Linked DNA regions of Homo sapiens. The protein of the gene in region 4 interacts with the protein of the main gene of each other region in a pairwise test. Each region holds a gene or a part of one and is shown on either strand. Other genes may lie near its edges.

What was found.
Region 1: the proteins of PEF1 (region 4) and STH interact in binary tests that used the Homo sapiens proteins (3 or more experiments, as listed by UniProt).
Region 2: the proteins of PEF1 (region 4) and HEMK1 interact in binary tests that used the Homo sapiens proteins (3 or more experiments, as listed by UniProt).
Region 3: the proteins of PEF1 (region 4) and EWSR1 interact in binary tests that used the Homo sapiens proteins (3 or more experiments, as listed by UniProt).
Region 5: the proteins of PEF1 (region 4) and FAM168A interact in binary tests that used the Homo sapiens proteins (3 or more experiments, as listed by UniProt).
Region 6: the proteins of PEF1 (region 4) and SEC24A interact in binary tests that used the Homo sapiens proteins (3 or more experiments, as listed by UniProt).
Region 7: the proteins of PEF1 (region 4) and SMUG1 interact in binary tests that used the Homo sapiens proteins (3 or more experiments, as listed by UniProt).

What each region holds. Positions count from the first base shown.
Region 1 is NC_000017.11:45,997,836-46,000,194, reverse strand, and holds STH (saitohin), read right to left. Parts: upstream 946-2,359; 5' UTR 916-945; coding exon 529-915; 3' UTR 501-528; downstream 1-500.
Region 2 is NC_000003.12:50,583,022-50,586,521, reverse strand, and holds part of HEMK1 (MTRF1L release factor glutamine methyltransferase), read right to left. Parts: 3' UTR 2,488-3,500; coding exon of another isoform or gene 2,472-2,487; 3' UTR 1-2,471. UniProt on the Homo sapiens protein: N5-glutamine methyltransferase responsible for the methylation of the glutamine residue in the universally conserved GGQ motif of the mitochondrial translation release factors MTRF1, MTRF1L, MRPL58/ICT1 and MTRFR.
Region 3 is NC_000022.11:29,295,768-29,299,267, reverse strand, and holds part of EWSR1 (RNA-binding protein EWS), read right to left. Parts: intron 3,030-3,500; coding exon 2,900-3,029; intron 1,442-2,899; coding exon 1,319-1,441; intron 536-1,318; coding exon 373-535; intron 74-372; coding exon of another isoform or gene 35-73; coding exon 1-34. UniProt on the Homo sapiens protein: Binds to ssRNA containing the consensus sequence 5'-AGGUAA-3'. Might normally function as a transcriptional repressor. EWS-fusion-proteins (EFPS) may play a role in the tumorigenic process.
Region 4 is NC_000001.11:31,629,366-31,632,121, forward strand, and holds the end of PEF1 (peflin), read right to left. Parts: intron 1,478-2,756; coding exon 1,248-1,477; 3' UTR 501-1,247; downstream 1-500. UniProt on the Homo sapiens protein: Calcium-binding protein that acts as an adapter that bridges unrelated proteins or stabilizes weak protein-protein complexes in response to calcium.
Region 5 is NC_000011.10:73,413,113-73,416,612, forward strand, and holds part of FAM168A (protein FAM168A), read right to left. Parts: intron 1-3,500.
Region 6 is NC_000005.10:134,662,285-134,665,784, forward strand, and holds part of SEC24A (protein transport protein Sec24A), read left to right. Parts: intron 1-3,500. UniProt on the Homo sapiens protein: Component of the coat protein complex II (COPII) which promotes the formation of transport vesicles from the endoplasmic reticulum (ER).
Region 7 is NC_000012.12:54,179,866-54,182,925, forward strand, and holds the end of SMUG1 (single-strand selective monofunctional uracil DNA glycosylase), read right to left. Parts: intron 2,759-3,060; coding exon 2,231-2,758; 3' UTR 1,783-2,230; coding exon of another isoform or gene 1,654-1,782; 3' UTR 501-1,653; downstream 1-500.

The DNA.
Region 1 (2,359 bases), on a different chromosome or scaffold from region 4:
ACGTGACTTGGCTCCTGCTCTTTTCCCTTTGGTGTTAGCATCTGTTCCGGCACGGTTGAGGGATTCTTCAGACTCCGCCAGCTTTGCCTCTTTTGTAGCCAAACATTTATTGAGCACTTACTGCATACTGGGTACTACATGAGGCCACAGGGACCCAAAGGTCTCAGCAAAAGCTCGTGGAGCCTTCAGGCCAGTCCAGGAGGAGGAGGCCTGACACCCTTCAGCGGGTCATTTTAAAGGCTCTTGTGCATGGACCCTGTATGACATTTTTCTTTTTCTTTTTTCCTGGAGATTCATGTGTTGGTCTTTGTTATGGCTGAGGTTTAGTTTCAGACAATTTTTCTAGGCTTTCCTGGCATTTAAGGGAGGCTGTGACTGTGTCCTCTGCCACTTTTCCACACTTCGTCCCCCAAAATATCTCAAGAAAAGTCAAGTCACCCTTTCTCCTTTAACCCTTTAGTAGATTTGGACGTGCTGCCTCCACCCAGCATGGTGACGTCATAACCTGGGGCTCCCATCTGCCCCTTTCTACACTTGGCATGAGGTCGCCTGACTCTCACCCCTCATGGGCAGAGGCAGGGCAGCTGCAGGGTGGGAGGGACAGTTCTGGCCCTGAAAGGGGCCTTCAATGGAAAGTTGTCTTCCCTGCTCAGCCCCATTCCTGCTGCTCTCTTCAGAGCTGTAAGAACTGGGCCAAATGGTGCCCACACCTTCCAAGCCAACCTCAGATGAACTCAGGGTCAACAGGGAAGCTACTTCCCATGCTAAGCTGAGGGTTCTGTCTCTGGCAACCTGAATCATCCACTCACACAGAGGCTGAGTTAAATTAACCCCGCATTCAATGAGGGCCGGCCACCTGCACAGTCTTGTGGGGGCTGCAAAAATGCATGAGACTTGGCCTCCACCCTCACTCATGGCCCAGACTAGGGAGCAGCAGACACATGCTCAGTGTGGTCAGAGTTTACAGGGGCTTTAAGAAGAGAGAGGGGAATCCAGGAAGACTTCCTGGAGGAGATGGCAACTGAACTTGGATTTAAGGGAAGGGAAGAGATAAGGAGAGAAGGACATTCCCCACCATGGGACACAGGGCAGGGTATGGCAGAACCCAGGGGCCCCCAGAGGTGCATGGGCGGGGAACCCCAGACGGGGAGCAGCAGATTCAGGCTAGGGGGAAGGGAGCACCTTGTGGGTGCTGCTTGTTATGTGACTTGAGGAGATCCTGGATGGCAGTCTGGGTGCTGGAGCAGGATGGGGGTGCATGGGTGGGCAATGGGAGAAAAGGCAGGAAAGGCCAGTGAGGGCCCCTCTGGGGTCTTGGGCAGCACCAAGGCCAGGCACCCTGGAGAATGAAAGTCACGGTGGTCCCAAGATGGGGCTTCTGGAGGCGACTTTCGAGAACCGAATGAGGACTGGAAAGTCTGGAGACGAGGGAGCGCATTGTCCCCAGTGGAAGCGCAGGACAGTTTCCCTCAGCTGCGGTACAGGACAGAGGCCCTGGGTCACCTGTGAGTTATTTCCCCAAGGTCTCTAACCAGGCCACTGTGGTGGATGAGGGTCCAGAGAGCCTCTTCCACTACAAGCTCCACATGCCTGAGCAGGAAAAGGCCGGACCTTAATTTAACCCGGATCGTTTGCCATCAGGAGGGAGATTCTGAGATGTTCTCTTCCTTCCCTCCCTCCTGTGTTCCAGGGAGCTCTGCCCTTGTCCCCACAGCCACAGGGGAGCCACTGTCTGTCCTTTCCTCGATGAGAGGAGGTGCTCTGGGGCACAGCCGAGTCTTCTCCACCTCTGTGCACCGCCTGGCACGCAGGGACTCTCAAAAGAGGCCTGATGCACAGAGGCAGGGTCTACACATGCGTCCCTTTTAACCCGACCGTCCATTTCCATCCCGATGGGATGTGACACTGCACTCACAAGCTTGTTCGGGGGCAGGGGGGATCCTGGGTGGGGGGAGGTGGCAGGGTTTGAGGCAAGGTGCCCATGTGCACTGGTGGCCACCCTCCGTCCAAATGCCCCAGGCTCAGACCCAAGTGATAAGAACTTCAATGGTGTGGAGAGCGCCTGCGTGGGGGAGGCAAGCTGACACGCAGGCCCAGGGTTCCAGAAAGCCCCCTAGCTCCCCGAGGCCCAGTGCCCAGAAGGCCCAGCACATCTGCAGCCTCAGAGTGAGCTGTGGTCCTTCTCACCCCCAGCCTCCTCTTCACCCTTCCCCAGCTCCCCAGTGCTGGGTGGCGGGAGCGGGGTCCTGGGCTGAATTGTGGTCCCCGCAAATTCACATGTTGAAGCCCTAACCCCCCTCCCCAACACCCCCGTACCTTAGAATGTGACTCTATTTGGAGACAGGGCCTTTAGAGAGGT
Region 2 (3,500 bases), on a different chromosome or scaffold from region 4:
AGTGTTTGGGGAAGACCCCAGCCCCTGGGAAGGGGGCCACTTAGCCAGGCCTGCCTGCCACGGGGCATGGCTACTCTAAGCTGTCTCACCCTCCCCCTTTAGGCATAGCTGGGGCAGGTGGAGGTCAGCCCAGTTCAGGGCTTTCCATGAAGCTGAGGTAGGCTTCCCTGCCTTTCCCACTTTGTGAGCTGTAAAATTAGCCTTTCCTGACCATTTTCCTGCAGGACTGCTGTATGTGTGAGAGGTAGTCTTTGGAAGAAAAGGGGCCTCTAGAATTTGAAGCTTCTGATTTCTGGTTATGAGGCCAAAGATCCCAAAGGTCCTTCCAGACACCTCAGGAGGGCCCTGGGGGGCAGAGGCTGGGGGCTGTACAGCCAATTACCTCAGAGGGGAAGGCACCCACTCATTCCGCAAGCGGGGGAAATCCTGCTCTCCTCCCACAGCTACCAGAGCTTCAGATGGGACTCAGATCTGTCTGCACACCCAGGGCTACAGTTGGCCTAATGTGACTCTTACCTGCCCATAAACCTGGCCCAGAGGGCTTTATGGGCCAGAATCCCTGGGTTTAGTAGCTACATGGACAGCCATATGAGCACCACCTAATTGACTTAATTAACTAACCCCAGGCCTTTGGAAGCAATAGGAGATGAGAGCATCATACTGGGAGTCAGGAGTCAAGTGCTGTGTTACTTCAAGTAAGCCCCATCCCTCTCTGGGAAAAAAGATCAGGGATTGAATATAAGTCTTGCCATGATCCACCCCTTCCAGTATAAACAGGCCCTCCTGGCTTCATCCAAAGCGTATCCAGGTGATTTGGGGCCAAGCTGACCCTTGAACCCAGGTGTCCATGCTCTCTGTCCCCCAGCTTCTCAGCTCTGAAACCCAGCATGAGGCCCATGTCTGGCCTCCCAGTAGCTCTCCATGTGGCTCCTGGGTTAGGACTGGCTTCAGGAGCCCCAAGCCTTGGCTGGGTGGGATGGTGTCTCCAGAGTCCTTTAGTACCCCTGGAAAGGGAGGTCCTAGTCCCAGCTTGGACAGGGACAGGGCTGAGGGCACCAGTTGGCCAATTCAGTTTTAGGAACCAGGAGGTTGAGAACCCCAGGGATAGCCCCACTCCACCATAGGAACAGAATGGTGACACAGCTCTGCTCAGGCCTATGGCTTACATGGAGGGGCCAGGCCCATTAGCTCAAAGTCAGGGGCTGCTGTGCTCATTTCACAGATGCAGTACCTGCAACCCAGAGAGTACAGGGCCCCTGCTCATCCTCACACACCCAAGGGGTCCTGGGCCAGTCACATAACTCCACAGGAGAGCAGGAACAGGCTTGGTCCCAGTCTCTGAGGTCCTCTCTGGACCCAGTCTCTGGAGATGGGCCATGGAGGCCAGCCTTGCACTTTCTCCCCACATCCCAGTCCCATTCCTCACCCACTCCCTTCTGGGACCCATGCTGGTCAGTCTTTCAGTCTTCTCACTCTGGGAAAGGGCCACCTCTCTCCAAATATGAGTAAAAAAAGGGGGGGCCTGGGCAGTTTAGGTCTGAAGGTTGAGGAAGAGTTCCCCTGGCCACATCACCTATCAGAAGAGAGGTGGTTAAGGCAATTTATCATGACTCTCAAAATTCTTCCAGCCTCTGCCCATTTCCACGTTGCAATTCCAAAGCCACTTCAATCAGTAGGCGTGTGTTACAGCAGCACTCTAATTTGGGCACCACAATCTATATTCGTTTCCCGTGGCTGCTGTAACAAATTATCACACATGTGTTTTCACACATGTGAAAACAACACAAATTTATGATCTTACTGTTCTGGAGGTCAGCAATCTGAAATCAGTTTCACAGGGCTTAAAATCAAGGTATTGGCAGGACTGCATTCTTCTTGAGGCCCCAGAGGAGAAGAGGCTGTCTGCATTCCTCGGCTCATGGCTCTTCCTCCAGCAATTGCATCACTCTGACCTCTGCTTCCATTGTTACATACATTTTCTTCCGTCACTCTGACACTCCTGCCTCCTTTACAGAGGCCCTTGTGATTATACTCAGTTTACCTGAAAAATCCAGGATACTCCTTCCATCTCAAGATCCTTAATCACATCTGCAAAGTCCATTTTGCTATGTGAAGGTAATATAGTCACATGTTAAGGTTTAGGTGATTAAGACACTGCCATTTTGGGGGGTCACTGTTCAGCCTACCAGAGCAGGGGTAGAGTTGCTTTGACAGTCCCAAATCCAGTTCAGGGGGCTTGTCCAGGGCAGAAGGTCATGAGGAGGAGATCAGGTCACTGTCCTAGCCAGGACTCTGGCTGGGGGCTGGCTGAAGCCAAGAGCTCCAGGAAACCTGGCGCCTGCTCCTACTGCCGCCAAGGACAGCCTGTTCTCCTGGTGTGGCTGTTGCGCAGGGATCAGGTGCACTTGAGTCTTCGAAGTGGCCATTGCTCAACTTGAATGGCTGCCTGGGTCGGGCAGAAGGCCAGGTCCTCATGGCTTCCCATCCCTAATGACCGGAATACATGGGCTGCCAGGTCAGATGTGGGCCACATGGGAAGTCCCAGCTCTATTCTAGAAAATGCATGTACCATCAGCTTACTGATAGACATTTACTGAACTTGGGTATGCCAGATCCACAGGGGGCCCCAGAGATGAGGGGGATAAGAAGGTTTCTGAAGGCATGGTACAGAAGGTGCCAGCAGAGGTATGGGCTAGGGGAGGCAGGGAGAGCACAGAGCAGGCATCCTAAAGGAGGCAGCATTTGTGTTGGAGCTTGAAGAAGTGGATTGTTTGCACCGCCTGGGCAAAGGGAAGGTGTGTGTTCAGGGCATCGAGAGTACTGCACAAAGGCTGAAGCCCAGGGCAGTAGAGAAGAGAATCCACTAAGAAGGAGCCAATGAAGAAAAAAAAGAGAAAAGAATCGAAGGTGGATAGGGAAAGACATGCTGTCCCGCAGAGGTTAAAGGGGTTCTCACCTCAAGCCAGCAGTTCTCAAACCTTGTCAGCAGTGGAGCCCTTTGTTCTGATGACAGCCTACTCAGAGCACTGATGGGGCCTTGGGAGGGGCCCCCAGGGCTTTTCCCACAGTTGTCCTCCCCCACCTCTTCAGAACTGGATTCCATAGGACACAAGAGAACACACTTAAGTCATGGGGAGCCAGCTAAGTGTTTGGGGCAAGGATTGGGAGCAGCCAATAGCCCAGGGTCCAGGTGGGGGTAAAGGAGCAAAAAAGAGTATTTTTTGCATTTAGGGGGTTCGGGGCCTATTTCAATAAGGCAGCTGTATGAGACCCATGGAGAAACCCACTGACAACTGGGAAAAGCATCCAACTGTGAGACAAGGCCTCAGTTTCCCCAACTATCAGAAGAGGAGATAGAATTACTCTCCCAGAGTACATCAAACAGGGACTCCTACACTCCTGTCTATGCTCTGGGCTCTGGCTGAAGGAGGCTGCACGGGCAGTGGGCACATCTCTCAAGACCTCAGGGGCTTGCACAGCCTGGACTCCATCAGCTCCAT
Region 3 (3,500 bases), on a different chromosome or scaffold from region 4:
TGTTCTCCAGGCGAAGTTCTGGTTTCCACAACCCCTGCATACAATTACATCACAGCAGAAATCACCAATTGAACTAAGGAAGATAAACAAGGAAAGGTGGTGTGTGAACAGGTACACACTCACTATCAAGAGGATCTATGTACACCCATGCTTTAGGGCACAGCCTCAGGCAGCATTGCACCCACAGGACAGGTCAAATCAATCTTCAGAAGGCTCTGAAGCGTCCAGTGAATGGCTGACTAGTGTCCCTAACCAGCCATCAGGGTCATCATTCTGTTCCTCTAGACAGAGCAATCCACTCTAGAGTGGGGATGGGGTGAGGGAAGGGTGGCTTCACTCGTAGGGTATCAATTTGCCAAGACAAGTACATACGGATTGGGACACTGCCAGTCTCCAGCTCGGTGCTGGACGTTTCCTCCTCCAGAGGGGTTCCCTCGGGAACCCCGGGGTCCTCTTGGAGGGAAGCCTCCTCTATCTCCTCCACGGCCTCCCATGCGACCCATGGGTCCCCCAGGACCTCCTGGGCCTCCTGGACCTACAACAAGAACAACAAGAAACAGCAAATCATTTCTCTGTAGCACCAAATTTGCTATAGGAAATAAAAATCACTAAGTAAACCCACAGATACTACTGCTGTCATTTCCCCATCACCTGTCCCGTGTTTCCGTGTGGCTCAGGCCATCAGCCCCCTTCCCTGTGAGGAGCGTGTTCCACGTGCTCTACAGAAACAGAGCTCCCACAATTTTTTTTTTTTTTTTTTGGAGACGGAGTCTCACACTGTTGCCCAGGCTGGAGTGCAGTGGCACGATCTTTGCTCACTGCAACCTCCACCCCCCCAGATTCAAACAATTCTCCTGCCTCAGCCTCCCGAGTAGCTGGGATTACAGGCATGCACCACCATACCCGGCTAATTTTTGTATTTTTAGTAGAGAGGGAGTTTCACCACGTTGGCCAGGCTGGTCTTAAACTCCTGACCTCAGGTGATCCGCCCACCTCAGCCTCCCAAAGTGCTGGGATTACAGGCGTGAGCCACTGCACCTGGCTGAACTCCCACAATTCTGTAAGGAATAGGCATGTCTATACAGACACAACCAAAGCTGAATAAATGGCAGTCTGGAGTTGACAGGCAGAGTGGCTTCCAGCCTCCCATGTTCTTCTCTTCCTTTTATTCCCAACAAACATTCATTGTTAGCTCTCGATAGTCTAGTATTGACTCTACACACAATTTTATATTTCTTCACTCTAATAATCAAGTTTCTCAAGGGTATGAAGTGTACTGAAAACCTTTTAATGCAACATAGGAGCTCAGAAAAAGTACCTCCACGGAGTGGTGGTGGCATGCCTCTGCCCTCACGGGGTGGCAGACCACCCCGCATACTGTTCATTGGAGGCTTCTTCCGAGCAAGGGAGACTTTAAGTTTGCTCCCTTGAAAATCTTTCCCTGGAACAAGACAACAGAACATCAATTACTCCCCTGTACTCCCTGTTCACCAACTCCACATCATCATCAAATGACCACTCCCAGATGCATTAGGTCTGCCTGTAATCTTCTCTAAGATCTTTAATGACAAGGCCAGAAAAAGGCTTTTTTTGAGATGGGAGTCTCACTCTGTTGCCCGGGCTGGAGTGCAGTGGCACAGCTCACTGCAGTTTCAATCTCACTTGCTCAAGCAATCCTCCCAAGTAGCTGGGACTACAGGCACGCATCACCATGCCCGACTAATTTTACAAAATTGTTTGTAGAGGCAGTGTCTCACTAGGTTGCCCAGGCTGCTAGTGAACTCCTTGGTTCAAACAATCCTCCTGCCTTGGCCTCCTGAAGTGGTAGGATTATAGGCAAGAGCCACTGTGCCTGGCCAGAAAAAGGCCATACTTAAATACACTTAAAAACCTTCCTACAGCCTGACCAACATGGTGAAACCCCATCTCTACTAAAAAATACAAAAGTTAGGCTCAGCGTGGTGACATGCGCCTGTAGTCCAGCAGCTACTCGAGTGGCTGACGCACAAGATTGGCTTGAACCTGGGAGGTGGAGGTTGCAGTAAGCTGAGATGGCTTGTGTCACTGCACTCCAGCCTGGGTGACAAAGTGAGACCATCTCAAAAAAAACAACACAAGCAAAAAACACTGTCTACCATAAGGAGGAAAATAAGCTGGTGGGAAGCTGACTGCATGACCAAGAAAACAGAACCAGGACTTGTTATTTGACACTTTCTTTGAGACAGAGTCTTGCTCCGTTGCCCAGGTTGGAGTGCAGTGGTGCAATCTCAGCTCACTGGAGCTTCAAACTCTCCGGGCTCAAGTGATCCTCCCACCTCAGCCTCCTGAGTGGCTGGTACTATAGGTATAGGAGTGTGCCACAACACCTGGCTAATTTTTGTATTTTTTTTGTAGAGACAGGGTTTTGCCATGTTCCCCAGGCTGGTCTCAAGCCCCTGGATTCAAGCAATGCACCGATGTTGGCCTCCCAAAGTGCTGGGATTACAGGTGCAAGCCACTGGACATGGCCAAGTCATTCAATGCTTTCAAGTTGGTTTTGTCTGAAGTGAAATCCCACCATTAATGTCAAGGCCTCATTTAAATATATATATTTATCTATATGCAAATGTACACTGGCTAAGATGTTCTTTTGAAGGGTTTTCTGTACCTTCTGATAATCTGTGCTTAGGAAGTGTTTGCCACTTTAAGCAAGGTTGATTTGTAATACTAATGCCTCAAAATAAAGGGATCTCCAAATCCAGGGTCAATGGCTGGGTGCTACTACTACTGCAGGGAGACCGGCCATCTACCTCCCCCAGGAAGAGATGGAAGGTCTTCTTGCTCCTATGGTTCACAAGTTTCTCCCTCATGCCATATTCTATAGCCAGGGAGATTAAGAATGCCAGTGAGTACATCTCACCATCAAACCATTCCACGGCAGCCTTGGCAGTGGGTGGGTCTTCATAGGACACTGTGGCATCGCCTTTGGGCTTTCCTGTTTCCTTGTCCAGGTAGATGTGGATCATGGGTTGCCCAGTTCTCTTGTTCATCTAGACAAAGAATAGCATAGTTAGGCATGACTAGAATATACTAATTTGGGAGAAAAAAGTCCAGGCAAAATCCAGGAAAAGTACCAATTTCTCACATGTAGTAAGTCACTAAATGTCACCGTTTCTCCGCTTTTAAGTTTTTCAGAATTCTAAGTTATTTTCTCCTCTATCCCTGCTTTATCATAAAAACCAAAGTAGACCAAAGTGTGGAAGTGAACAGGATAGGCCCCACTCCTGCCTTAGCCATCTTCTGATGCTGGTTTGCCTGCCCTGGCATTTTCTATGCCCAGACAGGTATCCACTGAGCACAGCCACCTCGTAGGGGTAGTCAGACTTTGATACCACCACATAAGACATGACTGGCATAAAGAAAATTATCCTTAAACCGTGAAGGACAGTGTACAGGCTGTGAGTGAACTACAGGGATTCTTGGTTAGTCTAACACAGCCACTACTTCCTCCAGTTAGAACA
Region 4 (2,756 bases):
CTAGAATGTCTGGTGTCTTTGGCTTTTGATTGAAATGTGGTCAGCTCATTAGAGACACTCGGTGTAGACTGGGTATTATGCTGATCTAAAGATCTGACTTGCAAGTACAGATGTCTGTGCTTAATAAAAGTGGGGAGAACGTTATGACTTAATAAATGGAGTTTGTCTGGAAGATAAAACTAGGGCCTGAGAAAATAGAAAAGGCCAGGCTATGAAGTTTGAGGTAGCTGCTTTCAACCCAGAATGCCAGCCCTAAAACTGCTATGAAATAGCTTCCTAAATAGACCTTCAGGCCATACTGAACTGAACCCGGCAGGCCCCTCAGCTGGCTACCCTATACTTCAACTTCCCTCTGGCAGTGGAGAGGAGCCCCACATAGGCAATGTCCCCCCAAGCTGCTGCTTTCTGCATGGCGTGGTGTATAGGATGTACTTAAATAGTCACTGAAAGGATGAGTGGATGGACCTGTAGCTGAGAAATCATGGTGGAAAACATGGAACTCCAGAGTTTCATCCTTTTATTGAAGCTTACAATTTCACTGGACTTTTGGCCCCAAATGAAAAAAAATGCAAATTAAAAAAAGTATTGGCAGGGAGAGGTGACCACTGTCTCCTGGAGACTGAAGCCGAGCAGAGCATGGCAGGCAAGTGAGGGGTCCCAGCTGCAGAGGGCAGAAGCCTGGCCAAAGATGCCCAGGGAGCAGATTTGTCTGAGCAGGGCCAGCCCCAGGCAGCTAGAAGTTAACACACAAGGATTTATGGGTGTGGCAGAATCCAAGCCACTGGTCCCATAGACAGATCTCTCTCATGCTTGGTCAGATTCCACTTTGGAGAAAATGGGCTCGTTTGACAGGATGGCCTGGTGAGGGAACACAGGTACTAACGGTAACAGGCCGATGAACACTCACCACTGGCATCAGGGTGGAGCTCAGCTGACTGGACACTAACTCCATTACAAGGACCTGCTCCTGGTGCCAGGCTGTGCCACTCAACTGCTCATGGCCATCAGGACATTCAACTTCTATCCTCTCCTCCATCAGGCCCCTATCTGTGTGGCCTCAGCCCCGGTCCTCACTATTTGGTGGCTATGATGCAGGACTCTCCACCCTCTTTTGGAACAGTGTTGCATCAAGCAAGGGAGAATGTTCTTCTAGAGGGACAGGAAAAGAAGAGATGTCCACATACTTCTCTCACTCTAAGAAGCCAGGAAAGGTCCCTGGTGCACTCCACTCTCCACAGATGGTTGGGTCATAGCATCCGAGAAGCTGTCATGGTGACGAAGTCCTCGAAGCTGAGCCGAATGTTGCCTTGTACAGCTGTGTCCTTCTCCCGGAAGGCCTCTGTCAGCACCTGCAGCTGGGTGCACACCTGGATGAAGCGGTCAAGCTGCATGGCAGGATTGGCAGAGCGTGGGCAGTAGCGGGAGACCAGAAGCTGGGTGAACTGGGGGCTCAGGTTGTAGCCCATTTGGGACAGAGCTGGAGAAGAGGGGCACACAGACCAGACACACAAAAACCTGCCATGAGCACCTCCATCAATCAGGAATACTGGATCACAACAGTTCAAGGAACTTCGAGAGGATGGGCACAGAAGCACAAAGAGGGTAGAGAAATCCCAAGGGTCTGTCTAAGATGTCAGAAACACAACAGGGACCGTGTCTGGATGCTCCCCTTAGGTGGAAGGCCCTCATCCCTCTTTCTCCAAATCTCCATTATTGTCTCTTCAACTGAGGCTCAGGGGATTGCAGAGACGACAACGGACTATCCGCAATCATCTCTGATTCGTTTGCATTCCAAAAGGAAGCCTGAGCTCCCAGGACCACCTTGCCTGGGGCAGACATCAGAGGCAGTACAGCAGAGGTATGAGGACCTGCTCTGGAGTCAGCCACTGGGCAAGTTGCTTAGCCTCACTATCCCTATCTTATCATCTCTAAAATGGGGATAATACTTAACTTGTAGGTTCTAGTAAGGATTAAAACGGGTGATCATGTAAAGCACTTAGCACAGTGACTGGCACAGAAAAAGCACTTGGTAAATGCTATTTTAATAAAGTCACTGTCACTCCAAGGTCTCTTGGAGCATCCTGTCTCTTCACTGGGATGCTTCCTTCCTTCCTCTGTTCAGAACTTACCAGGCCAGGCTAAAACCTCAGCTCTCCATTTGTTATGCGGGCCCTTGGGCAGGTTACCTACACTAAACCTCAGTTTTCTCACCGGTAAAAGGGAGATTATAAGGGATTCTTCATTGAAGGGTGTGGAATTATAAATAGTACCTAGCACATGGGAAGAATGAATTACATAAGCCTATTAAAAATAGCAAGCATTCAGTAAATACGTTTTGTTGTGGTTAATATCACCCTTACTAATATCCACGACAAAAGCTGGCAAGAGTAGGTGATTACTATAGGTCATCTCCCCTCCCTTTTACTGGGGGCAGATGTGGTGCACTCACTCCTGCCCACAGACCTCCTTAGTCTGAATGAAATCCACAGCCTGGGCAAAGGACTAGACTCTCTGGGGAGCCCTTTCTCCCTCCTGGGTGGCAAAGCTCCCTCTTGGGTCCTCCCCCAACCTCTTACTAACCTGCCTGAGCCCAAACTGTGGCCTTCTGCCTTACACAGTCAGTTTGGAACCAGACCTGGGGCTGTGGCCTCAGGTCATCTTCCCCAACTGCAACTTTTAGAGTGCTCAGGGTCCCAAAAGTTGGGAAAGAAACTGTCCACTAGCAGAGGTGGCAACAGACCCATCTTTCTGAGCCC
Region 5 (3,500 bases), on a different chromosome or scaffold from region 4:
ACATGGTCACAAATCTTTCTCAGTCCACATCACACCTCTTTGGCTTAGCACCCCCCTGCCCCTGATGACTCAGGAGGATAGGAGAGCTGCTGCACAGCTGCCACAAAAGTCAGCCTGTTCCTGGATTCACGTCATTTATTTTTTCACCTGCAGATCCATAGTTTTTTCCATAGTTTTGTGATCAAATATGCTTGGGAAATAAGTAACAATGAGGATAGAATGGAAAGTACATATGAAAGAGAGGGAAGCATGTTAAAGAGAAGTAGAAACTAACTGGAAGTGCAACTATGAGCTGAGTGAGAAGTCTAGAGCAGATTTCTCAAAGTTTCTAGATTATGGAGCTAATGATGAAATGTGGTCATAGGAGGAGAAGCAGATACTGTGGGGGAAGACAGGGAGACTAGCTTTGCAGATGTCTAGAAGGAACCATCTGATGTGTACGGAGACACAATTTACTTATCTATAAAATAAAGGGGTTTTATAGATAAACCAGAGATAGACATTTCCCAAATGTGGACAACGTACTATAGATCCCAAGGGATCTTAATAGTTGTTTTTGCCAAAGAAAAGGAAACAAAAGAGTTCTATAGTCCCATATGTAAAATAGAGATAAACAGTTAAGATTTTGTTTTTATTCCATGACCCTGAGAAGTTTTTAAAACAATAGGATGGGCTGGATGTGATGGCTCTCACCTATAATCCCAGCACTTTGGGAGGCCAAGGCAGGAGAAGCACTTGAGACCAGGAGTTTAACACCAGCCTGGGTAACACAGACAGACTACATCTCTAAAAAAAGAAAAAAACTTAGCCAGGCATGGTGGCTGGTGTAGTCCCCAGCTACTTGGGAGGCTGAGGCATGAGGATGGCTTGAGCCCAGGAGTCTAAGGCTGTTGTGAGCCATGATCACAACACTGTACTTCAGCCTGGGTGACAGAGCAGGACCCTGTCTCTTAAAGAAGGTGGGGAGGTGAACTGTGAATCTCTAAGATGGGAGTATGTACAAGACTGTATTTTCCAAATTAATTTTACCACAGAATCTTTTATTCATACTATAAACATTTAAAACAATTAAATTTCAGCCATGTTTTTTGTAATTGAAGCTAGTTTTGGTAAACAAAGTTATATTGTAACACATCCACATCCATTCATTTACATATTGACTAAGGCTACTTTCCTGCTACAATGGTAGTCACTGACAGAGAGCATATGGCCTTTTTAAAAGCCTAAATATTTGGCCCTTTACAGGAATGTTTGCTGACCCCTAATTTAAAGGAATATATCAAGGTGTAGAGAAACCTAGCAGAGCTGAAAGCATCCCTTTTCTATGCAGGAGAGTAGGACACCCCTGAATCAGAAGGTGCCTGTTTCTGAAAGCTCTGTAGCACAGAGCCATGGTTATGAGCAGTCTGGAGACAGACTGACTGCCTGGGTCCAAACCCCCAGCTCTGAGACTTAATAGCTATAGGATACATCAGTCTCGCGTGTGATATGGGAACAGTAATGGTACCTACTTCATTGTGATAAATACATTAACTGTTAAGTAAAAAGCACTTAGAACAGTACCTGACATATTAGAAGCACTTTATAAAGATCAGCTATTATTATTTTCTCTCTCACTTTATAGGGACAGTAAGCTTCTGTCCTAAGGGTATGCAGGCAGAGCCTGGTCTGAGAGACTAAAGCTAATCTATGACTACTATGGTCTGTCCCAGCTTGGAACACAGACTCCAGGATTCTAAGATTCTAAAATGTTATGGCTTAAAATGCCATGATTTTATGATTCTTTAAAGTTAACAGGCCAAAGATGCTGATGACTTTCCTTTATGCTCCTGGAGAATGTGCTCTGGAATTTTTCTCTTCCCTGGGGAAGCTGGATTACCCACTGTATGCCACAAGGACAGCCATATTACAAAGTGGTGAGACTATCCCTCTGAGGAAAATCAAAAAGCTCCAAGAGACTGCAGTAGAATTTGGTTCCCACATCTAAGAATAACCTTGTCTGAGAATGTTTCCCTTTCTTCATGTTATGAAATGAGACACACACATACTCAGAATACAAATCAGTAGCCAAAACACCCTTGGCAGCCAAAGAGATGATGCTGCAGAAGAAGGCCTTGCTTGTTTGTCCAGACAGTCTGAGATAGAAGCAGAACTGCAGAGCTAGAAGACTCAGAGATCATTAAGACCAACGTAAACATTTCACAGATGAGATAATGAGTAGTTGCTGAAAGAGAGAGCTGTTTGTGGGGATCTAAGACTCAGTGCTACTTCCTCTAACCACAGTGGTTCTCAAGGTTACCATTTGTCAGGAGGATCTTCATGAGGCTGGAGAAACTGCCTGGGGGCCCTCATCCTAGGTTCTGTCAGTAAGTCAGGTCAATTCCTCTCAGGGAATATCCTCATTTGGACTAGACAGTATCAGAGAACTTCTCTAGTGCTGACATTCTAGGTCTCTGAGTATTTCAGAAGACTTTCATGAGGAAATCATTTCAGAGGACTTTCCATAATTTACTAGTGGTCCTGTCAATACTCTTGAGGAACACTGAAAATTCCCCTGGAGCTATAGCCTGAGCTTGGGTGACACAAAAATCAGGGTTTATTACTTTATGCATCTAAGTAAAAGAAGCTGTTGGGCTTGTTGCAAAAAAGTCTCACAGATTTTGCCCAAATGAACTTAGACTCAGTTCACTCACTGGAGGCCTGGCTATCCTGAAAGGAATTCTAAGTCTGAAGGTCACAGAATTAAGACTTTGGAATGTTGTGCCTGAAGGACATTAGAGGTTTATATTCAACCTCCTCCTTTTCCGAGAAAGAACCTGGAGCCCAGAAGGACAGATTTTCCCCAAATTGTACAGCACATCAGTACACAGCTAGGCCCAAAGTTCAGGGCTCACCCTGCCCTAGGCAGAGCTCTTGCTGAGTTAAAGTCTCTGTAGTCCAATCTTGGGCATTTAATATACTGGCCTTTGTTGTCCCCATTTCACTAAAGGCAATATCATGAAAGAAAAAATGAATTAGATCACTCGAAGTCCCAGCTCTGCCTTATAAAAGAGGCTTTGTTTATGATGTCCTATTCTTTCTCTTAGGTTCCTAACCATAATTTTAGAATCAAATGGGATAATAAAAAGAGTATGTACATTAACAAGATAAAACCTTTTCAGCGCTTTCTGCAATCCTTTTTCACTGTCATAAATCTTTTTCAGTTGTAGAAGCCCTACCACCTTCAAAGGCTTGATCCTTGCATCACGGATGCCTTTTAGACTAATTGGTTTATTGATCATCAGATTTATATGTCTGGACAAAATAAAGCTCTATGTCTGAATCTTGCTTTGACCCCTAAGACTCCTTGTTGGTAGCCAAGTGAGACAGTGATGAATCAGCAGGAGACCTAATTACAAACAGGCTTAGCAAGTATCAGTGAAATTGAACTGAATTTGTCAAAGTGCCCTGAATTTTCTGTGGTACTAGAAGCCACAAAATCTGAATGCTGGGAGGAATCT
Region 6 (3,500 bases), on a different chromosome or scaffold from region 4:
GCTGGGACTACAGGTGCCCGCCACCACGCCCGGCTAATTTTTTGTATTTTTAGTAGAGACGGGGTTTCACCGTGTTAGCCAGGATGGTCTCGATCTCCTGACCTCGTGATCCGCCCGCCTTGACCTCCCAAAGTGCTGTGATTACAGGTGTGAGCCAATATTTCTTTGAAAAGCATTTAAAATTCTGTATTGGGATCTGCAGGTTGATACTTCTCAGCAGACAGCCTCAAGTTTATGAAATAGTGTAGGCTTCCAAGTGAAATAGTAATATCAATAGTTACCTTTTTAACCTTATGTATGTTTATATGGCATATACTCCATCAGGCTTGTAAATTGTTAATGGCTGAAACTTTATTTTTCCAAGCCTTTGATCAGACATTGGCCCTGGTGAATGCATTTTGGCCTTGTAAAGATTAAAGCTGCTTCTAGAAACTTAAGTTTCTTTGTGGAAATCTTCTGACCTGCAATTAGTAGAGCTAAAATCCTTCATGTTACTTTTGTTCTAATTCATTTGATACCATGAGTGAGCATCAATCACTTGAAATGAATGAATATGGTGGCACACATCAATCACTTGAATGAATGAATGTGTGGTCCCAGCTACTCGGGGGGCTGAGGTGGGAGAATTGCTTGAGCTCTGGCAATTGAGGCTGCAGTGAGCTATGATTGTGCCACTGCGCTCCGGCCTAGGTGACAGAGTGAGACTTGGTCTAAAAAAAAAATTTAAGTGTTAAAAAAAATGTTATCTATATTATTTTCCAGGCTCTATCAAACTTTGATATCATTATCTGTTTTTCTGTTTTGCTTTTTATTTTTTAGAGATAGGCTGTCTCTCTGTTTCCCAAGCTGGAGTGCAGTGGTGCAATCCTAGTGTCATCAAACTGCTGGGCTCAAGCTATCCTCCCGCCTCACCTCCCTGAGTAGGCGTGCCACAGTGCCTGGCTAATCTTTTGTTCTTTATTTTTTTGTATAGACAGGGTCTTACCCTGTCGCCCAGGGTAGAGTAGGGTAACACGATCATAGCTCACTTAACTGCAACATAGCTTGCTGTAACTGCTGACCTCAAGCCATCCTGCTGCCTGGATTTCCTAAAGTTCTGGGATTACAGGTGTGAGCCACCTAGCCAGGCCTGCATTATCTTGTTTAATCTTCGTAACAGTCTCTTACAGATCTAAAGTATAAGACTTGAATAATTTGCCCAAAGCCACAGTAAAATAGTTTGGGAAAACATTTATTTAAAAACTATTTAAGGGCCAGGCGTGGTGGCTCACGCCTATAATCCTAGCACTTTGGGAGTCCAAGGCAGGAGGATCCACTTGAGGCCAGGAGGCCAGGAGTTCACTAGCCTGAGCAAAATAGCAAGACCCCATCTCTATTTTTTTAAATAATTTTATTTAAAAATAAATAAATACTAAGAGTAGGTGTAGCTTCTCTTAAAAAGGTACATTATCAATAATCTGAAATTTCTTTAGCTATAATAGAAACCCTCAGAGCACCTTGTCTCCACTACAGATTTGGTGAGAGAGACATAAATAAGTGCTGAGGCTGGGCATGGTGGCTCACGCCTGTAAGCCCAGCACTTTGGGAGGCTGAGTCGGGTGGATCACCTGAGGGCAGGAGTTCGAGACCAGCCTGGCCTACATGGTGAAAACCTCGTGTCTACTAAAAATACAAAAATTAGCCAAGTATGGTGGCACGTGCCTGTAATCCCAGCTACTCAGGAGGCTGAGGCAGGAGAAGCGCTTGAAGCTGGGAGGCGGAGGTTGCAGTGAGCTGAGATTGCACCACTACCTTCAGTCTGGGCGACAGAGCAAGACTCCATCTCAAAAAAAAAAAGTGCTGAAACTTATGAAAGAAGGGGAAATAAAAACATATAAACTAATAAAATGAACCTAAAAAGTAACCTTCTTTTTTCTCATTTGAACCTTCAAAGAACCTTCAAATTCCTCATTTTTTTTCTTTTTTCCAACTCATAACTGAGAGTTGGTACCTGATAGTCTGGTATCAAAGCTGTGAGTATTTAGGTTATACTAAGTTTTTAGTTCATATATTAAATTTTCCTGAATTTTTTTAATAGGTCACCTTTAAGCATCATTATACTCATTTAGGGGCTGAGAGGGCAGACTCTGAAACTCTAGCTATCAGTGTCGTAAATAAGAATTCTTCAACTTGAAAAAATGTTCATTTTATGAAATATATGATTATCTGTTCAAAAATAGTCTTCTAAAAGCTGTGAAAATCTCTGTAAGTTTACTTTTATTCGTTAAACATTAGGTTGTAGGTTACATCTTTGTGGCCAGATGTATTTTACATTCTTGTTCATGCTGAGTTGGCCATGTACCTTGCCCCTTTGTTCCTTTGACTTGTCTATACTGCCATAGATATGTGTGACCACTTCTTTGATAAGGGAGTTACATGGCAATAATCTTTGTCTTCACTTTTGTCAACAAGGCACTGATAGTCTTGTTAGCAGTTGTAAGATTCAGTAATAGGCAATTTTTCTTTTTCTTTTTTTTTTTTTTTTTTTTTTTTGAGACGGAGCCTTACTCTGTCGCCCAGGCTAGAGTGCAGTGGCGCAATCTCGGCTCACTGCAACCTCCGCCTCCCAGGTTCAAGCAGTTCTTCTGCCTCAGCCTCCCTAGTAGCTGGGATTACAGGCATGCGCCACCACGCCCAGCTAATTTTTTGTATTTTTAGTAGAAACGGGGTTTCACCATATAGGCCAGGCTGGTCCCAAACTCCTGACCTTGTGATCCACCTGTCTCAGCCTCCCAAAGTGCTGGGATTACAGGCGTGAGCCACTGCACCCAGCCTAATAGGCAATTTTTCAACTTGATACTGGAGTATTTAACAGTATTGGTGAAACATTTTGAAAAATTTCAGGCTGAGCGTGGTGGCTCACGACTGTAATTCCAGCACTTTGAGAGGCCGAGGCGGGTGGATTACGAGGTCAGGAGTTTGAGATCAGCCTCCAGCCTGGCCAATATGGTGAAACCCCATCTCTACTAAAAATACAAAAATTAGCCGGGCGTGGTGGCGCGCACTTGTGGACCCAGCTGCTGCCGGAGGCTGAGGCAGGAGAATCGCTTGAACCCAGGAGGCGGAGGTTGCAGTGAGCCGAGATTGCGCCATTGCACTCCAGCCTGGGGGACAAGAGTGAGACTTCGTCTCAGAAAAAAAAAAAAAAAGTGTTCCTTCTGCCTCGGTCTCCCAAAGTCCTGGTATTATAGACATGAACCACTGCTCCTGGCCCCCTATTTTTATTTTTATTTATTTATTTATTTATTTTGAGACAGAGTCTCGCTCTTGTTGCCCAGGCTGGAGTGCAGTGACGAGATCTCAGCTCATTGCAACCTCTGCCTCGCAGGTTCAAGTGATTCTCCTGCCTCAGCTTCCCAAGTAGCTGGGATTACAGGTGCCCACCACCACACCTGGCTAATTTTTTGTATTTTTAGTAGAGATGGGGTTTCACCATGTTGGCAGGCTTGTCTTGAACTCCT
Region 7 (3,060 bases), on a different chromosome or scaffold from region 4:
ATGAAGACAAATATATGGTAGGGTCCAGGAGTGTCCCAGGCACAGATGTGTGCCCTCTGCTCATAGAAACAGGATACCAATGCACATCCCTCAGCACATCCATGTGTTCACCAGCCAGGAAGCTGACCAAAACCTGTGTCAGAAGTTTTTATATCTAGAGTTTTACCATAGATATAATTGGTTAAAATCATCGGCATGTGGCTGAACTCAATCTCTAGCCCCTCTCCCCTCCCTGGGGATCAAGCTGGTATCATCCAGCTCAAAGTCCCAGCCCTGTAACTATATGGTTGGTCATTCTGGCATGGTCAGCCTCCATCCTCAGTCAAATCTTACAGCAAACTCAGGTGTGGTCTGAGATCAAATTCAATATAAAATTAGGTGCAGCCTAAGGTCAAATCTCAACATAAATTCAGGTGTAGTTTCAGGGACCTGCCACGAAAAACAAAGATACTCCTATTACTTGGGAAATTCCAAGGATTTAGAGTCTCCTTCTCAGGAACTGAAGACAAAGGCCAAATTCTTTATTATACAATGAAGTAGGGGAGGATTTATATGAAAAATCTTACTAATTCTGGAAGCTGGAAATGACCTGTGTCCCAGGAGATAGGAAGTAGACCATGTGTTCCTCATTAAGGTGGTCTCAAGACCTGCTCTGCTCCCAACTTGGTTCACTTTCCCAGCCCTTACCAAAGGGGCACCCAGTCAACCATTCAGCAGACATAAAAAATGAGTTGGATACCAGGTTCCCATCTGCCCCATCACCTGTTTCTCACGGTGTCCAGAGTATCATATAAGACCCCTAACAGACACTTAACAGAGACCCTGCAGGTTTGGTAAGGCAATTGGAGATCTGCTACATCCAGCCAGGCAGCAGCACTTTGGGAGGCCAAGACAGGTGGATTACTTGAAGTCAGGAGTTTGAGACCAGCCTGGCCAACATGGTGAAACACTGTCTTTAATAAAAATACAAAAATTAGCCAGGCGTGGTGGCACATGCCTGTAATTCCAGCTATACAGGAGGCTGAGGCAGGAGAATCACTTGAACCGGGAAAGCAGATGTTGCAGTGAACTGAGACCATGCCACTGCACTCCAGCCTGGGCAACAGCATGAGACTCCATCTCAAAAAAAAAAAAAAAAGAGAGATCTACTACATCCTTCCCCCAGCTGCCCAAGAGAACCCCTGGCCAACAATGAAGAGGGAAGAGGGGGGAAATCTAAATGACTACCTTCCACCTCTAGCATGCAAGAGGGGGAAAAAAGTAACAAGACAAAAGGCTTTAGGAGCTCTTAATGCTTAGAGTGAAAAAAAATCACAGGCTAGTTTTTTCATAGTCATTGATCCATCTCTGACATGGCAAGAATTTTCCCTTCACCCTGGCCGCAGGTGGAAGCCCAGACTCTCTCCTAGCAAGGTATCCAGAATGGAGAGGGGCTACCCTTGTAGTGCAGTGCTGTGAATCCTCAACCCAGAGGCAAGAAAACAAGAAGACTATGTAATGAGCACCCACATGCCAAGCCCATGCAAGGCACTTTCAAGTGTGATCTCAGTTAATCCTCACACCAACCCCATAAGGTAGGCATCCCTGTTTTACAGATGAGGAGCCTGAGGCATAGAGAGGTTTATTAATTTGTCAATCAAAAAGTTCCAAGTTTCAAAGCTGGGATGAAAAGCCAGGTCTTCTGACTTGCACTCTGTCACACTGGATTTTTCCTCTGATCCAGCTGCAGCCTCCCATAAGAAGTTCACTCTTAATTTCATGTCCCATGCTTTGTCTTGGTCCCTGTGAGGAAAGGGGTCAGCTAAAGGTAACTGTTCTATAAGGATGGGTAGGTATCCTGGCAAGATATTTCCTCTGAAATAGTAAACGTGACCTTAGAAGTTACTGTCTAGGGCACTCTCAGCTGAATAAAGTCTCCCAAGGAAACACTGAGGTAGAGCAGTCTGCAAGTGCAAAAGCACACCTTCTGCAGATTCCCTACAAAGTGGGGTCCCCTGAAAGGGGCAATGTTAAAAGGTAAAGAAAGCAGGAATCAGGAGGGCAAACAGGAGTAGTGTCAAAACTGCCATGGCAGGTTGGAAGACAGTTCAACAGATCAAAGAATACGTTTCCCAGCGACCAGGGTGCACAGAAGGACCTTTTGCTCCAGTCCAGGAGATGTGTTGTCATCTGCTTGGCCAAGAATGACTTCGAGGTCTTGAATGTGTCCCATGCAAGGCCCCAAGGGCACTCATTTCAACAGCAGTGGCAGCAGCCCCAGCTCATTCAATCTTTCCTTGGCCACTGCCTCCCAGCCCTTGTTGGCCTGTGGGTTACGGGGAGAGGGATGCAGGAGCCCTTCCACCTGGACCTCTGGCATCAGGCCTGCCAGAGCCCGTCGTGCCCGCTGCTCTGCCAGTCGCCCAACTCCCACCACCAGCCGCACCCCCAGCAGCTGCACCTGCCGGCAGAGGGCTGCATCACAGATCCCAAGAAGCTGTTCTCGCTGCTTGGCAGGCAGCTCAGCAGGAGTAAGGTTGCGCCCGCTGGGAGCCAGGAAAAGCAGAGGGCATAGATTGTGGACAAAACAGTGATGGAAGAAGACCTCAGGCTGTCCACAGAGGTTCCGGAAAAAGCCCCAGAATCGGGCACCACTCACTTCTGACTGTGGGCACTCCAGTCCCAGCACTGGTCGTTTAGGATGCTCTTGGGGAGGGGTCAGCACAGGCCCCACAATGCCCAACCAGTCCCGGACCATGCTTACTTCCCCAAAGGGCACCTGTGAGGAAGGAGAGAGACATGAAAGGCTTCAAACTGGAGACCTGAGGCCCGGGCTCTGGACCAACTGACTTCTTTATACCTTACATGAGGATCCAGCCTGCACCCCCTACCCCTACCTTCACCCAAAGGCCTGAGACAAGGATTCTTGGCCCTATGGTTTGAGCCTGTCTGTCTTTTTCCAGTTCTTCATTGTGAACCGTGGTCCAGAAGAATTTGTTTCCCTCTAGCCCAACTAGCCTTTGGGACTAAGTACAGGGACTACATTGAGATATCTAGCCCTACACAGGGTTTGATGGTTAG